Linked DNA regions of Homo sapiens. The main gene of each other region encodes a partner of the protein of the gene in region 2 in a complex. Each region holds a gene or a part of one and is shown on either strand. Other genes may lie near its edges.

Region 1 (8,454 bases), on a different chromosome or scaffold from region 2:
AAATAATTATTTCCAGTAAAACTGCCTCTGTTTCAACTCCCTTTATCAGGGTTAAGTTCACAGAGAAATACTAACTTGGATAAAGGATCAGGTGGTAAATATGTGTCCTACTCAGACACAAGGATTTTTATTGATAGTTGGTTAAATTCCCATCTCTCTCCACATAATAGAAAAAAATAAACCAAGCCAGGCGCAGTGGCACATGCCTGTAATCCCAGCATTTTGGGAGGTGAAGAGGGGGTGGATCTCTAGAGCTCAAAATTCCAGACCAGCCTGGGCAACATGGCAAATCCTGTTCTCTATAAAAAATACAAAAATTAACTGGGCATACTGGCAAACGCCTATAGTCCCAGCTACTTGGGAAGCTGAGGTGAGAGGATTGCTTGAGCCCAGGAGGCCAAGGCTGCAGTGAGCCTTGATTGCACCACTGCACTCCAGTCTTGGTGACAGAGACCCTGTCTCAAAGACAAAAAAAAAAGAAAAGCAAACCAAGAACACTTTAGTAAACAACTTCGTTCTTCCAGGGTTATATTAATATATGTTATAGTATATACTACATTATTAGGCCCACCAAAAAAAAAAGGTGTCAAAGGTTAAAATTTTTTTCCAATTATTTTTGTTCCCCAAAATATTTTTAGATTTGTGTAATTTTTTTGTTTTAAGTCTCCTCATCTTGATTATCATCTCTAACAGCAACTTACCTCACGTCACTTATATACTGTCAAATGGTAAATTGCTAATTTTGCTTTATTTATTTATTTTGAGATGGAGTCTTGCTCTGTCTGTTGGGTGATCTCGGCTCACTGCAACCTCCTCCTCCCGGGTTCAAGCGATTCTCCTGCCTCAGCCTTCCAAGTAGCTGGGACCATAGGCACCCACCACCACTCCCAGCTCATTTTTGTATTTTAAGAGACGGGATTTCACCATGTTGGCCAGGCTGGTCTCAAACTCCTGACCTCAAGTGATTCGCATACCTCGGCCTTCCAAAATGCTATTACAGGCGTGTGCCACCATGCCTGGCCTAATTTTGCTTTTTTACATTATTATTTCTAGACCACAAAGGAAACAGTTTATAGAGCCCATGATTATGGATTACTTTCGATGGAAAGATACTATAACACCTGGATTTTTTACTTTTCTGTAGCTTTAAATAATACTTATAAATGTTATTAATTAAATATATTCATTTAATTTAGGTCTTAAGGTTTGACAATTCAAATTAACTTATGTTTGGATATAAACACAAAAATCTGTGTATAGGTTTTCTCTTGTCTGTTAGTTTTGTAAAAATCTGTTGGACTGTATTTCTCGGTCAAAGTCAACCATGAACTTTACTTGCACGTGTCAATATGTGGAGACCAAGAGAAACCAATAGTCTTCACACTCAATCCTTTACCCACTCACCTCTGTAATATAAAACTAAAATACTGACAGGTGATCTCAACTCTAAAGTAAAAGATCTATAAAATATAGATGAGTTCAGCATCCCAAAGCCAAAATGCTCCAAAAATCCCAATTTTCTGAGCCAACATGACATTCAAAGGAAATGCTCATTGAAGCATTTTGGATTTGGGATGTTCAACAGGTAAGTATAACGCAAACATTTCAAAATCCAAAAAAAGTCTGGAATCTGAAACGCTTCTGGTCCGAAACACTTCAGATAAGGGATATTCAACCCATACACTTCAATAAGTCCTAGTAGTAAGAGCTTGACATTCATGCTTCAAACGTCTAGACTGAGGATCCTTCAAAAGACTCAGAAGCCAGTTTGAAGAGGCTTCTACTGTTCAAGAATGGGAAATTTAAATTTTAAAGCTTTACTTCATATATTTACTCAGCCATTATTTTTGTAGTGGAGACTGCACAATGCTGTATTCAAATGCAAATAACTTATGGGCATACTACCACTTAAGATTTCTATATAATAACTTAGCACAGTGATAAAGAATTAGTTATGAACTATTACTTTTGATAAAAATCTTTTCTATATAGAGAAAATTACTGCCTTTTAAGACATAATTACTATTAAATCCTAATGAAATACTACACTACAGTTTTCCAAAGAACCAGATCATGAAAACATGTTACCACTTATTAAAACTATGAACAATCCTCAAATAGTAACACACTTAATCCTTGCCAATTATCTTCTCACCAAAAAGAGTTTAAAAAAAAATAAAAAGCTTCAAACATCTCCAAATGCATTAAATACTAAATACCTTCATTAGTAACACCTTACTTTTTTTAAGAGGCTGGAGCGCAGTGGTGCAATCACAGATCACTGCAGCCTAGAACTCCTGGCCTCAAGCAATCCCTCCCACCTCAGCCTCCCAAAGCACTGGGTGTAACACCTTACTTTTAAGTAGAAAAATCAGATCAGTAATTCTGGTAGGAAATAAAATGACCTCTTAATAAAAGTTATAATTTTTGTTTTTATTATTACAAATACTTAAGAATACTTATTAAGTTACCACTCTTGTCATCCACTTTCAGGTACATCAACTTTTTTTTTTTTCTTTTTAAAAGACAGGATCTCACTCAGTCGCCAAGACTAAAGTGCAGCCTTGACCTCCTGGGCTCAAGTGACCCTCCCACATCGGCCTCCTGAATAGGTGGGACTACAAGCATGTGCCACCACCCCCGAGCTAATTTTTTTATTTTTCTGTAGAACCAGAGGCTCCCGATGTTGCCCAAGTTGGTCTCAAACTCCTGGGCTCAAACCATTCTCCTGCCTCAGCCTCCCAAACAAAGTAGGGGGATTACAGGTGTGAGCCACCGCACCGTCCTACATAAACTTTAAACATACAAAATGTATGCATGCACATGACTTTCTCACTCTAGGCTTCTTATCAGATGTTCTAAAATCTAGAGTTAACAAGAAGTAATGGTTTTGTGCCAGGAGCAGTGGCTCACGCCTATAATCCCAGCACTCTGGGAGGCCAAGGCAGGTGGATCACCTGAGGTCAGGAGGTCAGCCTGACCAACATGGTGAAACTCCATCTCTACTAAAAATACAAAAATCAGCCAGGCGTGGTGGCACACGCCTGTAATCCCCGCTACTTGGGAGGCTGAGGCAGGAGAATCACTTGAACCCAGGAGGCAGAGGTTGCAGTGAGCACAGATCACACCACTGCACTCCAGCCTGGGCAACAAGAGGGAAACTCTGTCTCAAAAAAAAGCAATGGTTTTCTTAGGGGTGGGGATGAGGAGGGCAGTTATTTGAAACCTTAACTTCTCACATATTCTTACCATGAGTTTCACCAAAGTGGAGGTTAATTCGTATGTATTTTTAGCACTTGCCAGCACTTGCTTTTTAGGTTTGAAAAGGCTTGCCAAAAGTTATCTCAAAACTTATAACCACTAGTACTATCTTTGTAAGAGAAAACATCACACACATATATTTATACACACAAGTTAAAGGGAGGGGGAACCTGCTGAGGAAAATTAAGGAATACGTTATTTTAAACTACTTTAACGACCTGATACCTGAGGAATGGGATTCTTACTGGTTCCAACAATGTTCCAAAGTTTCCACTTCAACACAGTCTAACACACAATGAACATAAAATATTATCTTCACATATAGTATGCAAAATCAAAACAAAGAGCTTCTTACACTTCAACATTTTTCTGTTGCAGACCAGATGTCTTCTTTCCTGGGGCAGCCCCTCTCATCTTCCCCTCTGCATACTGCTCCCTTCAAAAATAATTTCAGTAATGTCAACATAAAATGAGCATTTATGTGAAAAAAAAATTGTCAGCCTGATTCCATTAGGAATTTACATTCAAATTCTGGCAACAAGTTTTTAACAAGTTGGACAGAGATATTTCCACAAAAATCAAACAAAACACTCAAGAAACAGCAAAAGGCTCAATTAAAATCAATGTAATAAAAAGTGACTGTAATAGACTGTTCTCATAGCATTGAAAATTCCATTTGTTTTGGAATTCACTAATCCCAGTGTTTTATTTGTTCCCATTACCATTTTAATTCTTTTTTTTTTTTTTTTTGAGACAGAGTTTCACTGTGCTGCCCAGGCTACACTGCAGTGGCGCGATCTCCGCTCACTGAAAGCTCTGCCTCCCGGGTTCACGCCATTCTCCTGCCTCAGCCTCCGGAGTAGCTGGGACTACAGGCGCCCGCCACCATGCCCGGCTAATTTTTTGAATTTTTAGTAGAGACGGGGTTTCACCGTGTTAGCCAGGATGGTCTTGATCTCCTGACCTCGTGATCCACCCGCCTTGGCCTCCCAAAATGCTGGGATTACAGGCGTGAGCCACTGCGCCCAGCCATCGTTTTAATTTTTTTAAAAATACATTTCAACTTTGAGATTACCCTATAAATCATAGAGTCTTTCAGGGTCCCTTTTCCCGTGCTTTCAGAGATGAAAAGCAGAATAGGAAATGCCTCGTTTGCTTGTTTCCCCACCAAATTTGTCTTCCAGAGCCCCCGAAAATAAAGATTTTTATCAGTGAGTTCATACCTATAGCAATTTCCAACAACATTCTGCTGTTTTCTACCTAGGTCTAAGATAAGCTCAAGTAATGGCAGGTATGCTACTTCCTTTACCTAGATATGGCTTGATCGCTTGAAGTCAAAGCTGTAACACAGCAGCTGAAAGGTACCAGGAATCATTTTATAGGCAGGGCAGCCAACATGATCTCCATTGTTCATTCCATGTCCAGAATTAATCTACAGGCATTTCTCCTTAATATTCAGTTCACAAAACAAACTTACTGATTGGCTTTTTGAAGTTCTCGCTGTTTCTGCAAATTGGTGTCCACGTATTTGAGTACTCTGCTCTCCGGAACCCATTCATCCCAACTGAAAAAGAGGAAAGTTAAAATTTAACTCAAAAATACTCTGTTCTCCAACTAATTTTCTGAGATCAAGAGGCAAGACTGGATTTCTCTTAAGTAATTTGATGAACTGGCACTACAAATATATTCTCAACTAAAATGAAGATCTAATGGAAGTCTGTTCTGTAAAAAGGAAAACTTTTTATTTTCAAAAAGCAGCATTCCAAATCTAAGCTGCCAGAGTCCAAAAGCAGATTATTCAAATCATTTTTAGAAATGGCTTAAGAGTTTGGCACTTAATGTAAGATTCACTAAGTGATTAGTCTTATGTTATCTTAAAGACTTTTATTGTCAAAAATAAAGCACAGGAGTCAAAAACTCAGTTATTTTTAAAAATTAAAACCAGCTGTGTGTAATGACAAAGTTCCATATAGCTTTGTGTTTTCATTTCATTCTCTATGAAATGAGGATAACAACAGTACTTATCTCAAATAACTGTTATGAGAATACATGTAAAACACCTGAGAATCCCTGACACAAAACAACACTAAAGGTATGTCAGAAACATATTAGGAAGTCTACAATACTCAAACACCAACTAGACTAACTTAAGTTTGTAAAGTATTAAAATGATTTGACACCATTCTCCACCTTCATTCAGTCACAAATGAATACACACTAATAACTTTCAAGGCTGATCAGAAAGCTGGCTTTCTAAATATTAGAAGGCAGAACCAACTCTCTCAAAAATGTTAAGACATTCTGGCACTTCAAAGAGCTTGTTCAAAACACAATTTCTGATTATGTGTTTTTTCCCCCAAAATGGCAAACAAAAACAATGTAATTTCTTAGGGAATGCTAACTTTTTTTGAGCAGTAAATCTTTTCTCCTGCTGATGGAGCTCCTTTAGTGACACAATTAGGTGTACTCTCAAGGCACCCAATTACAAAAAAAAATTTAAGACTTTCTTTTGTTTAATGATTTCCCACCTCTGACCTCTTATATAATACAGCCAAGAGGAAAATAATAAAAAGCAATCCTGAACATGATTTCCTAGAGAAAATTTCAAAACATGCATTTACCTAGAGGTCAGGAGGGGGTGGTGTACTGAGGGAGCTCCTTCAGGAACAGGAAAAAGGGCTACAATATCCTCATGTGTCTTCAAAGATTTTTCAGAGCGCCTGGGCCTCACAGCACTTCTGATACAGACAGCATAGTACAAAGTAATCTCAGTGACCAGGTGCAGAATTGAGCCTCAGCTTTATTAAGATTCATTTACAAATGGAGTATTTAAGTGTGTGTCAACAAATTCCAATGAGGTTTGAAAATTTAGAAATCTCCATCATCTATTATGTTTTTGAAAAAAGATTAACTGAAGTTTAAGAGAATTCCAATTTAGGGATTAAGGTTTTGTTGTACGAATTTTAAAAAGTACCCTGCACAAGCCATTTTCAAAATGAGATTATTTTTGAGATATTTGTGTGTGTGTGTGTGTGTGTGTGTGTATTTTTTTTTTTTTTTTTTTTGAGACAGAGTTGCGCTCTCGTTGCCCTGGCTGGAGTGCAATGGCGTGATCTTGGCTCACCACAACCTCTGCCTCCTGGGTTCTAGCGATTCTCCTGCCTCAGCCTCCTGAGTAATTGGGATTACAGGCATGCGCCACCACGCCCAGCTAATTTTGTATTTTTAGTACAGACAGGGTTTCTCCATGTTGGTCAGGCTTGTCTCGAACTCCTAGCCTCAGGTGATCCGCCCACCCTCGGCTTCCCAAAATGCTGGGACTACAGGTGCGCGCCACTACACCCAGCTAATTTTTAGTAGAGACAGAGTTTCACCACCATGGCCAGGCTGGTTTTGAACTCCTGACCTCGTGATCCACCTGCCTAGGCCTCCCAAAGTGCTGGGATTACAGGCATGAGCCATCGCGCCTGGCAAGAATTTCAGCTTTTTGTTTTTTTTTTTGAGATGGAGTCTTGCTCTGTCGCCCAGGCTGGAGTGCAGTGGCACGATCTCGGCTCACTGCAACCTCTGCCTCCCAGGTTCAAGCAGTTCTCCTGCCTCAGCCTACAAACTAGCTGGGATTACAGGCATGAACCACCACACCTGGCTAATTTTTGTATTTTTACTAGAGACGGGATTTCATCATGTTGGCCAGGCTGGTCTAGAACTCCTGACCTTGTGATCTGCCCGCCTCGGCCTCCCAAAGTGCTGGGATTACAGGTGTGAGCCACCGCGCCTGGCCCAGAATTTCATAGTTTTCTAACGGTAATGTGACTAATTCCCAGAGTCACAATGATCCATGGGCAGTACTTACATAGACTAAATACACAACACACTAGGTATCTGAATAACTCCTCCCCCTTTCAAAATGAATTTAAAGGTTTCTTTAAAGACTTTCTAAAGCTAAGATCATTCTTTCAACATTGCATATATTTATCTACATGCCAAGTCAACCAAAGACATTTCTGATATATTAATATTCCTCAATACATCTACAAAGATAGTAACAAATCTCTAATATTTGATGCTATTTTTTCTTAACTTTCCCCAACAGTAATTAATATGTGTCAAATTAGTTGAGAACAAAAAAATCTACACAAACCTATCATTTCTTTGAGTTACTGGACTACAATACACCAAAGAGGAAAATGCCCATTATTTTTCGAAACAATAAAATCTGAAAATACAAGCATTTGGTATTTTCACAACTTGTGACAAGCTACAAATGCCACTTAAAATCCAGTCTTTGCGCTGTACACATCTATGTGTGCAATTTTATACAGGGTTATCTATTATATGTGAAAAAGAACTAAGCACAAAAGCTGTATTCACAGTTACTAAGGTGAAATTCTAAAATAATTTTTTAAGGTTTTTAAAAATATCTTCTTTATTCTATTCCCTTGTCGTAGTTTCCCTTAGTTTTTTATGTGTTCAATCGCTTTTTTTTTTTTTTTCCTGAGTCTCACTCTGTCGCCTAGGCTAGAATACAGTGGTGCAATCTCAGCTCACTGCAACCTTCGCCTCCTGGGTTCAAGCGATTCTCCTGCCTCAGCCTCCCCAGCAGCTGGGACTACAGTCGTGTGCCACCACACCTGGCTAATTTTTTTATTTTTAGTAGAGATGGGGTTTCACCATGTTGGCCAGGCTGGACTTGAACTCCTGACCTCAAATGATCCAACCGTTTTGGCCTCCCAAAGTGTTGAGATTACAGGCATGAGCCACTACACCCAGCCTCAAACACTTTTTTAAAATTTTTATTTGCTTAATTATAAGAGGGGTGTCTACCTATGTTGCCCAGGCTGGCCTCAAACTCCTGGGCTCAACCTCAGCCTCCCTAAGAAGCTAAAACTATAGGCACCACCATACTGGCTCTAAAACAATTCCTTTAAAATGCAGGAGATGGAGGAGATTAAGCCTAAACCATAAATTTGCTTTGTGTTTTTTTTTGATATCCTATATGGTCTTTCCCACTCATAGTATGCATAAAATTAAGATGTTATCTTTCCTGTAGAGAAATGAAATTCTCCTAACACTCTCAACTTTATCTGGATATTGTCAGAATATCAACACACAAAATATAAGTCTAATAAAGATTGAAATGCAGTTTTAGCAAGGCATTGTTTAGTAATAAAAAGCTATGAGATACACTAGGAG
Region 2 (8,664 bases):
TACAAAAATTAGCTGGGCATGGTGACGCACACCTGTAGTCCCAGCTACTTGGGAGGTTGAGGCAGGAGAACTGCTTGAACCCAGGAGGCATAGGTTGCAGTGAGCTGAGATAGTGCCACTGCACTCCAGCCTGGGCGACAGGGCGAGACACAGTCTCAAAAAGAAAAAAAAAAAAAAGGATGAAGAGGACTTAAACTATGATTGAAAACACTGTTAGTATTTAGACAGCCAAGAGGGAGGAAGGAATCATGGGCAGATGAAATAGCAGAAACAAAGGCACAGAAATGGTAATGTGTATAGCATGTTTATGGAATAAGGATTTAGATCTAAGTAAAACTTTTCTCTGTCAAGAAACCTTGTTAGCCAACTGCATTTGGCTCCAGCACTGCCTCCTTCCAACACTGATTGCACTGTAGGACTGTATGATTTGAAAAGAAGGTTGCATTCCATTTATGGAGAAACTTAAATGTCACACTAATAAACACGCTTTTAACCTGCAGGCCAGTGATTCTCAATCCCCTCCATCTCCTTATTTTCCCTACCATTGATAATCATTGTTGAGGTAAACTAAAGTTACTGAGAGAAATATGTGTCATTCCTCAGGCGTGTTGGGACAGAAAAACAGCTGAGTACTGCTACTATGGATAATGGAGGGCCACTGAAGATTTAGGGGAGGGGTAATGGTATGTACAATGGGTATTTCAGAAAGCTCTGGGGGCAGTTAGATGGCCTGGAGTAGAGAACGTGAAGTACAGCCTAGACCTCAGGTGAACTGGTTAGGGCTAGAATGGCAGCCATATTATAAAGAAAAGGGAAAAAAGCCACTTGAGGGAGAGGGAGTCAACTGGGCTGGCTGACACCTCACATATGTGGTTCTCTCTTCAATCAGTGATGCAGACTAATGGGCTAATCTTGGTACACATGATGCCAAAGCAAGCAAATAACACAGATGGCTGACACTCCAAGCCAGCCAGAGTTCAATTTTGCACTGATGACCATCATTTCCTCCTAACTGATGTTTGTAAAAGACAGCCTGGGAACACATTAATCCCCTCAGCTTTAATCTGGTATTAAGCCATATCACCAGAGGGTAGTAGATCAACCACACATTAGCTTAGTGCCCAATCAACATACTTGCACTAAATTAAGGATTTACTACCATTCCTTCGGCTTTTATTGAGAGTCATTAAGAGACATCACTAGAAAAGAGAATGTTTGTATATCATCTATGAAAACCATTACTTTTTATAATATAAGGATATAATGATAAATGCTCCCTAGGATTTAAGGCTGAAAAAGTTTGTGTCTCTTGAAGAACTTGTATGCTTCTTTCTTACTAAAAAAAGAAATACAAGGTTTGGCTACCAGGAAGCTCACAACTAAATTTAATATCAATTGCTATTACCATTTTAGCAGAGGTTCCTGGTACAATTACTTCTGATCTGTCTCTATTTTTACTGTTCCTACTTTTTGTTTATATTGTAAGCCTCCTTAAATCCTTTTTGGAAGCATGAAGGGTACATATTAAATAACAAGTCGTAAAATGACAGAAATAGGAAAATGGCCTTAGAGGAGGGATGAGAAAGTTCTATTTTAAACTAGTTGGTTAGGGCTGTGTCAGTAATGACTCTGTCAGTGATGTGGGTTTTTTTTTTTTTTGAGACAGAGTCTCACTCTGTCGCCCAGGCTGGAGGGCAGTGGCGCAATCCACTGCAACCTCTGCCTCCTGGGTTCAAGTGATTCTCCTGCCTCAGCCTCCTAAGTAGCTGGAATTACAGGCACACGCCACCACAACCAGCTAATTTTTTGCATTTTTAGTAGTGACAGGGTTTCACCATGTTGGTCAGGCTGGTCTCGAACTCCTGACCTCGTGATCCACCCGCCTCAGCCTCCCAAAGTGCTGGAATTACAGGCGTGAGCCACCACACCCAGCCCCTAAGTCCTGTGGGTTCTATTCCTTAATTTCTCTTGAATCTTTCTGTTTCTCTACTGCCATGCCCCCTTCAAGCCATTCTCATTACAGAGTAAGTAACCTTCCTAAAGTACAAATTTCATCGTGGAATTCTGATGACTCTTCTCAGTCCTCTGGATGAAGAGCAAAATTCCTTAACATAGCTCACAAGGCCCTAAAGGATCTGGCCCATGCCTACTCCCTGCAGGCTTATCAATCTTTAGTCTCCTTCATGCTCTGGAGAATGAAAGTAGACTTGCAGGTCCTAGACCAGGATCTCAATGTCTTTACATACTCAGCCCATCCTGCTCTGTGGACTAACCTTTCTCCTTCTCCTGCTTTTCATCAAGCTAAGGTCTACTTTTCAAACTGTCCTCAGCTTAAACATCATCCCTCCAGGGATGCCTATCCTGATCAACAACTTTGGTTCAGATGTATTACCTTAACACTCTTACACCTTGTTTTAGTCCTTATCACACATTTTTTGTTTGTTTTTGAGACGGAGTCCTGCTCTGTCGCCCAGGCTGGAGTGCAGTGGTACGATCTCGGCTCACTGCAACCTCCTCCTCCCAGGTTCAAGCGATTCTCTGCCTCAGCCTCCTGAGTAGCTGGGACTATAGGCGCACACCACCACGCTTGGCTAATTTTTGTATTTTAATAGAGACAGGGGGTTTTACCATGTTGGCCAGGATGGTCTCGATTTCCTGACCTTGTGATCCACCCGCCTCGGCCTTCCAAAGTGCTGGGATTACAGGCGTGAGCCACTGTGCCCGGCCAAAGCCACTGTGCTCGGCCTATCACACAGTATTTTAACTGTTAACCCAGGCAGTTACCCCACTGGGGCATGGAGTATGTAAGGACAGAGCACTGTTTTTAATATTCTGTTTCCCTAGAGCCTAAAACAACCTATTACCGATGGCATGCTCTGGGTACTCAACACATTTAATAAACGGGTAGATTCAACTAATAAAAATTTAGCAAGTGGCAGCCCAGTCCGGACACCTCACACATAATGTTGAACAAAACAGACCATCTCTAACTTTATACAGTTTACAATGCAATAGAAAAGCATAAGCAAGTAAGCAAACCAAATCTAATTGCAAATTGAAATATGTTCTGTGGAAGAAATAAATGGGGACACTTGTTAGGATAGTCAAGGAAGGGTTATCTTCCTGAGAAAACATTTACACTGAGACCTGAAAGCTGAAAAAGAAGTGGGCTAAGCTCCTCTACTTTTGGAGCGGTTCCTTTCCATGTCTCAGGTGAATAATCCAGCAGTGGGCCAACGAGTATACATCGAGCAACTGTCTACTACTATGTGTGTGCCTCGTGTATGCTGGACGTCAGAAGTACAGTGAAAGATGCAACCACGCAAGTATACGGTAGGTTTCTGCCGTTCTCTGTTCTCTGGAGTGCCTCCGGAGAGCTTCTCCGTCTCAGGCCCCTTTGACCCCATCCAGAGCTCTCCCTTCTAGGACTCCACACTATCCGTTCCCCCGCCTCGCCCCCCGGCTCCGATTCACCCACCCAACTCGAGTATCAGCTCCCAGAGCTCCTCTCTATTCCCCGCCCTCTTCTTCTTTGTCCGGGGTTTCTCCCTTCAGGGCTCCTCTTTGCCTCCTCCCCTCCCTTTTCCCAGGCCCGGATCTTGCCTCTGTGAAACCCCCATAAGTCGTCTGGTAGAACTCATCTTCCTCCTCTGCCTCCAAAAGCCCAGAAAGCCGGTTCCCAGCGGTCTTCCGGGGTGCCCGGCCCCCAGCCAAACTCATACCGCCTACCGAGACTGCGCCGCCACCTGCAGCCCCTCACCAGCTCGGTTTTGGGAGCTCGACGCTCGACATCACTACCTGCGGGTGGCCACCAGCGGCGGAAGTCGGGCGTTTACAGGCAGAAGTAACAGAGTGTCGAGAGACTCCCAGTCCCACCCTCTAAACCCTCTTTACTCTTCAGCCTCTCCTACTCCTGCGCGGATGCTCTAGGCCGCTTGCTCTAGTACCCAGCGATCTCCCTTGCTCAATGAGTCCACTTGGTGGTACGAAGACCCCCATAACCCTAAGTCAACACATTTTATTTTATTTATTTTTATTTTATATATATATATGGTTTTTTTTTTCCGTAGGGACGGAGTCTCGCCTCGCTCTGTCGCCAGACTGGAGTGCAGTGGCACGATCTCGGCTCACTGCAACCTCCGTCCCCCGGGCTGAAGCGATTCTCCTGCCTCAGTCCCCCGAGTAGCTGGGATTACAGGCGCCCGCCACCATGCCCAACTAATTTTTGTATTTTTAGTAGAGACAGCTTTCACCGTGTTGGCCAGGCTGGTCTCGAACTCCTGACCTCAGGTGATCCGCCCGCTTCGGCCTCCCAAAGTGCTGGGATTACAGGCATAAGCCTGCGCCCCCAGCTCACATTTTCTTTTAGAAGAGGTCATTCTCTCCGCTCCAGTCCATTTTCTACACTGCTGCTAGTAGGAAACTTTCTAAAAACCCACGTTTTGCCACTCCTGTCCTCAAACATTTTTAATGGCTCCACATCATCTACAAGATAAAGTCAAAAATCCTTGAGGAAGGAAGCATAGTATTGTGGTTAAAAACACAGCCATAGACATTTATCCAAAGGAAAGGACATAATTCAACCTGAGGAAGCCAATTTAGGAGGAAAAAAAAAAAGGAAATCAGTATATCCAAGAGACGTCTGCACTCCATATTTATGCACCCCCATATTTATTGCAGCACTACTTAGAGTAGCCAAAATAGGAAATCAATCTCTGTGTCCAACAACAGATGAATAAAGGAAATAGGGTGTATATACACAATGGAATACTTTTCAGCCATTAAAAAGAAGAAAATCCTGTCATTTGCAGCAACATGGATGGAACTGGAGGACATGTTAACTGACTTAAGCCACGAACAGAAAGTTAAAACACTGCATGTTCTCACTCATATGTGACGCTTTTAAAAAGTTGATTTCATAGAAGTGAAAGAACAGAGGATACTGGAGGCTGGGAAGAGCAGGGGGAAGGAAGGGACAGGGAAAGATTTGTTAAAAGACACAAAATTGTGGCTCACACCTGTAATCCCAGCACTTTGGGAGGCCGAAGGGGGTGGATCATGAGGTCAGGAGTTCACGACCAGCCTGGCCAAGATGGCGAAACCCCATCTCTACTAAAAATACAAAAATTAGCTGGTCGTGGTGGTGGGCGCCTGTTATCCCAGATACTCGAGAGGCTGAGGCAGAGAATTGCTTGAACTCGGGAGGCGGAGGTTGCAGTGAGCCGAGATCGCGCCATTTGCTCTCCAGCCTGGGAAACAGAGCAAGACTCCGTCTCAGAAAAAAAAAAAAGACAAAATTGGGCCTGGCACAGTGGCTCACACCTGTAATCCCAGCACTTTGGGAGGCTGAAGCGGGCAGATCCCGAGGTCAAGAGATTGTGACCATCCTGGCCAACATGGTGAAACCCCGTATCTACTACAAATACAAAAATTAGCTGGGTGTGGTGGCGCGCACCTGTAGTCCCAGCTACTAGGGAGGCTGAGGCAGGAGAATCGCTTGAACCCGGGAGGCAGAGGTTGCAGTGAGCTGAGATTGTGCCACTGCACTCCAGCCTGGCAACAGAGCAAGACTCCATCTCAAAAGAAAAAAAAAAAAGACACAAAATTACAATTTTTTTTGAGACAGGGTCTCTATTGCCCAGGCTGGAGTGCAGCAGCAGGATCATGGCTCACTGCCTCCTTGACCTCCTGGGCTCAAGCTGTCCTCCCACCTTGGCTTCCAAAAGTGCTAGGATTACAGCTGTGAGCCACCACACTGGCCCCCAATTACATTTGTTTGTTCGTTTGTTTGTTTGTTTGAGATAGGATCTCACTTTGTCACCCAGGCTGGAATACAGTGATGCAATCACTGCTCACTGCAGTCTCGACCTCCTGGGTTCAAGTGATCATCGCACCTCAGCCTCGTGGGTAGCTGGAACTACAGGCTCGTGTCACCACGCCTGGCTAATTTTTTGTACTTTTTGTGGAGATGAGATTTCATCATGTTGCCCACGGTGATCACCTGAGCTCAAGTGATCCCCACTCCTCAGCCTCTCAATGTGCTGGGATTACAGGTGTGAGCCACCTCGCTTGGCCCCAAATTACATTTAGATAGGAGGAATAAATTCTAGTGTTCTTGGCCGGGTGTGGTGGCTCACACCTGTAATCCCAAAACTTTGGGAGGCTGAAGTGGGCAGATCACCTTAGATCAGGAGTTTGAGACTAGCCTGGCCAACATGGCGAAACCCCATCTCTACTAAAAATACAAAAATTAGCCGAGCACGTTGGCGGGTGCCTGTAATCCCACCTACTAGGAGGCAGAGGCAGGAGAATCACTTGAACCCCGGAGGCGGAGGTTGCAGTGAACCAAGATCGCACCATTGCACTCTAGCCTGGGCAACAAGAGTGAGACTCCATCTCAAAAAAAAAAAAAAAAATTCTAGTGTTCTATATCACTGGGGGATAACTATGATTAACAATAATATTTTCAAATAGCTAGAAGAAGGATATTGAATGTTTGTGCTGGAGACAAATAAATTATATATTTGTGAGGCCAGGCACGGTGGCTCACGCCTGTAATCCCAGCACTTTGGGAGGTTAAGGTGGGCAGATTATTTGAGGTCGGTAGTTCAAGACAAGCCTGACTGACATGGTGAAACCTTGTCTTTACTAAAAAGTACGCAAATTGGCCAGGAGTGGTGGCAGGTGCCTGTAGTTCCAGCTACTTAGGAGGCTGAGACATGAGAATCACTTGAAACCGGGAGGTGGAGGTTGTAGTGAGCCAACGTCGTGCCACTGCACTCCAGCTTGGATGACAGAGCGAGACACCATCTCAAAATAAATAAATAAATAAATGATACATTTTTTAGATGACAGATATACTAATTATCCTGATCTGATCACTAAACATTTTATGTATTGAAACATCACTATGTGCCCCATAAATATGTACAATTATGTGCCAATTAAAAATTAAAATAAAATAAAACAACAACAAAAAGAGAACACAGCTTTAGAGCCAGCCAGACCTGAATTTGAGTGTGAACTTTAAGGTCTTTTAGCTGTATGACTTTGGACAAGTTGCTTTACTTCTCTGAATCTCAGTTTTCTCATCTGCAAAGTGGGACTGATAATAATACCTATCTTTTAAGGTCGTAGAAGATTAAGAGATATAATTATTGGCCAGGTGCCATGGCTCACGCCTATAATCCCAGTACTTTGGGAGGCCGAGGCGGGTAGATCACAAGGTCAGTAGTTCGAGACCAGCGTGGCCAGTATGGTGAAACCCCATCTCTACTGAAAATATAAAAATTACCCAGGCATGGTGGCGGGTGCCTGTAGTCCCAGCTAGTCGAGAGGCTGAGGCAGGAGAATAGCTTGAACCCAGGAGACGGAGGTTGCAGTGAGCCAAGATAGCACCACTGCACTCCAGCCCGGGCGACAGAGCCACATTCTGTCTCAAAAAAAAAAAAAAAAAAAAAAAAAGACAGAGAGAGATAATTCTTGTCAACTGCTTAGCACAGTGTTTAGTAAGTGCATAGTAAATGTGTAGTAGGTGGTAACTACTACATGGCATTCAGTATTCAGATCCTTCATAATTTAGCCTCTCCCTGTCCTTCTAGTCACACCTCCTGCGACATCACTACTCCAGCATCTCTCCCCTAACACCCAATTCTCTGTCATGCCTCTATGCCTTTCTTTCTCCTTAGAATCCCTTTCCTTTCTTTTCTAATTTTATGGGAGAGTGGAGTCTTCCTGAACACCCATTCCTCTCTTTCCAGGCACAATTCATATAACTATGGAGATGATGTCTTCTGTAGTCTCTGGAATAGTTCCAATCTCAAATATTGTCTGTTGTAAAGACTGTTCTCATTTTTTATTCTGAAAATATGGTTATCAAACCATAGCACTTACACAAACTTTATGATGGCACCTATTACATTGTATTCTAATGATTCACATGTCTGTTCCCCTCATTAGTCTGTGATCTTTTTGAGGGCAGGGGCTTAATCTTTTCCTTTTTTTAATTAAAAAAAATTGTTTTGGAGACATGGTTTTGCTCTGTCGCCCAGGCTGGAGAGTAGTGGTGCAATTTTAGCTTACTGCAGCCTTGACCTCCTGGGCTCAAGTGATCCACCCATCTCAGTTTCCTTAGTAGCTGTGACTACAGGTGCGCACCACCACGCTCAGCGAATTTTTGTATTTTTTGTAGAGATAGGATTTTTGCCATGTTGCCCAGGCTAGTCTTGAACCCCTGGGCTCAAGCAATCTGCCTGCCTCAGCTCCCAAAGTGTTGGGATTACAGGAGTGAGCCATCCTGCCTGATGATGGGCTTAATGGTCATCTGTGTATTCCAGGAACTCTAATAGTGCCTGGGACGTAGCTTGGGCTAAATAATGTTAATTGAGTGAATTAATTAATGAATGATTAATTGAATAAATAGCCCATCCTCTTATTGTAGAATCCTTTCCTTGCTCTTGCCAGTCCCCATCACTTCATTCTAATCTTAGAAACTTTTCTGGCCGGGCGCAGTAGCTCATACCTGTAATCCCAGCACTTAGGGAGGCCGAGGCAGGCAGATCACGAGGTCAAGAGATCGAGACCATCCTGGCTAACACAGTGAAACCCTGTCTCTACTAAAGATACAAAAAATTAGCCGGACGTGGTGGTTTGTGCCTGTAATCC

Evidence for each region. The genes of interacting proteins can lie anywhere in the genome.
Region 1: VPS72 (region 2) and MORF4L1 share a complex: the UniProt entries of both Homo sapiens proteins name them as parts of the nuA4 histone acetyltransferase complex.

The regions. Positions count from the first base shown.
Region 1 is NC_000015.10:78,882,512-78,890,965, reverse strand, and holds part of MORF4L1 (mortality factor 4-like protein 1), read right to left. Parts: intron 6,000-8,454; coding exon of another isoform or gene 5,883-5,999; intron 4,826-5,882; coding exon 4,739-4,825; intron 3,698-4,738; coding exon 3,617-3,697; intron 1-3,616. UniProt on the Homo sapiens protein: Component of the NuA4 histone acetyltransferase (HAT) complex which is involved in transcriptional activation of select genes principally by acetylation of nucleosomal histones H4 and H2A.
Region 2 is NC_000001.11:151,186,402-151,195,065, forward strand, and holds the start of VPS72 (vacuolar protein sorting-associated protein 72 homolog), read right to left. Parts: upstream 3,797-8,664; 5' UTR 3,721-3,796; coding exon 3,604-3,720; intron 1-3,603. UniProt on the Homo sapiens protein: Deposition-and-exchange histone chaperone specific for H2AZ1, specifically chaperones H2AZ1 and deposits it into nucleosomes.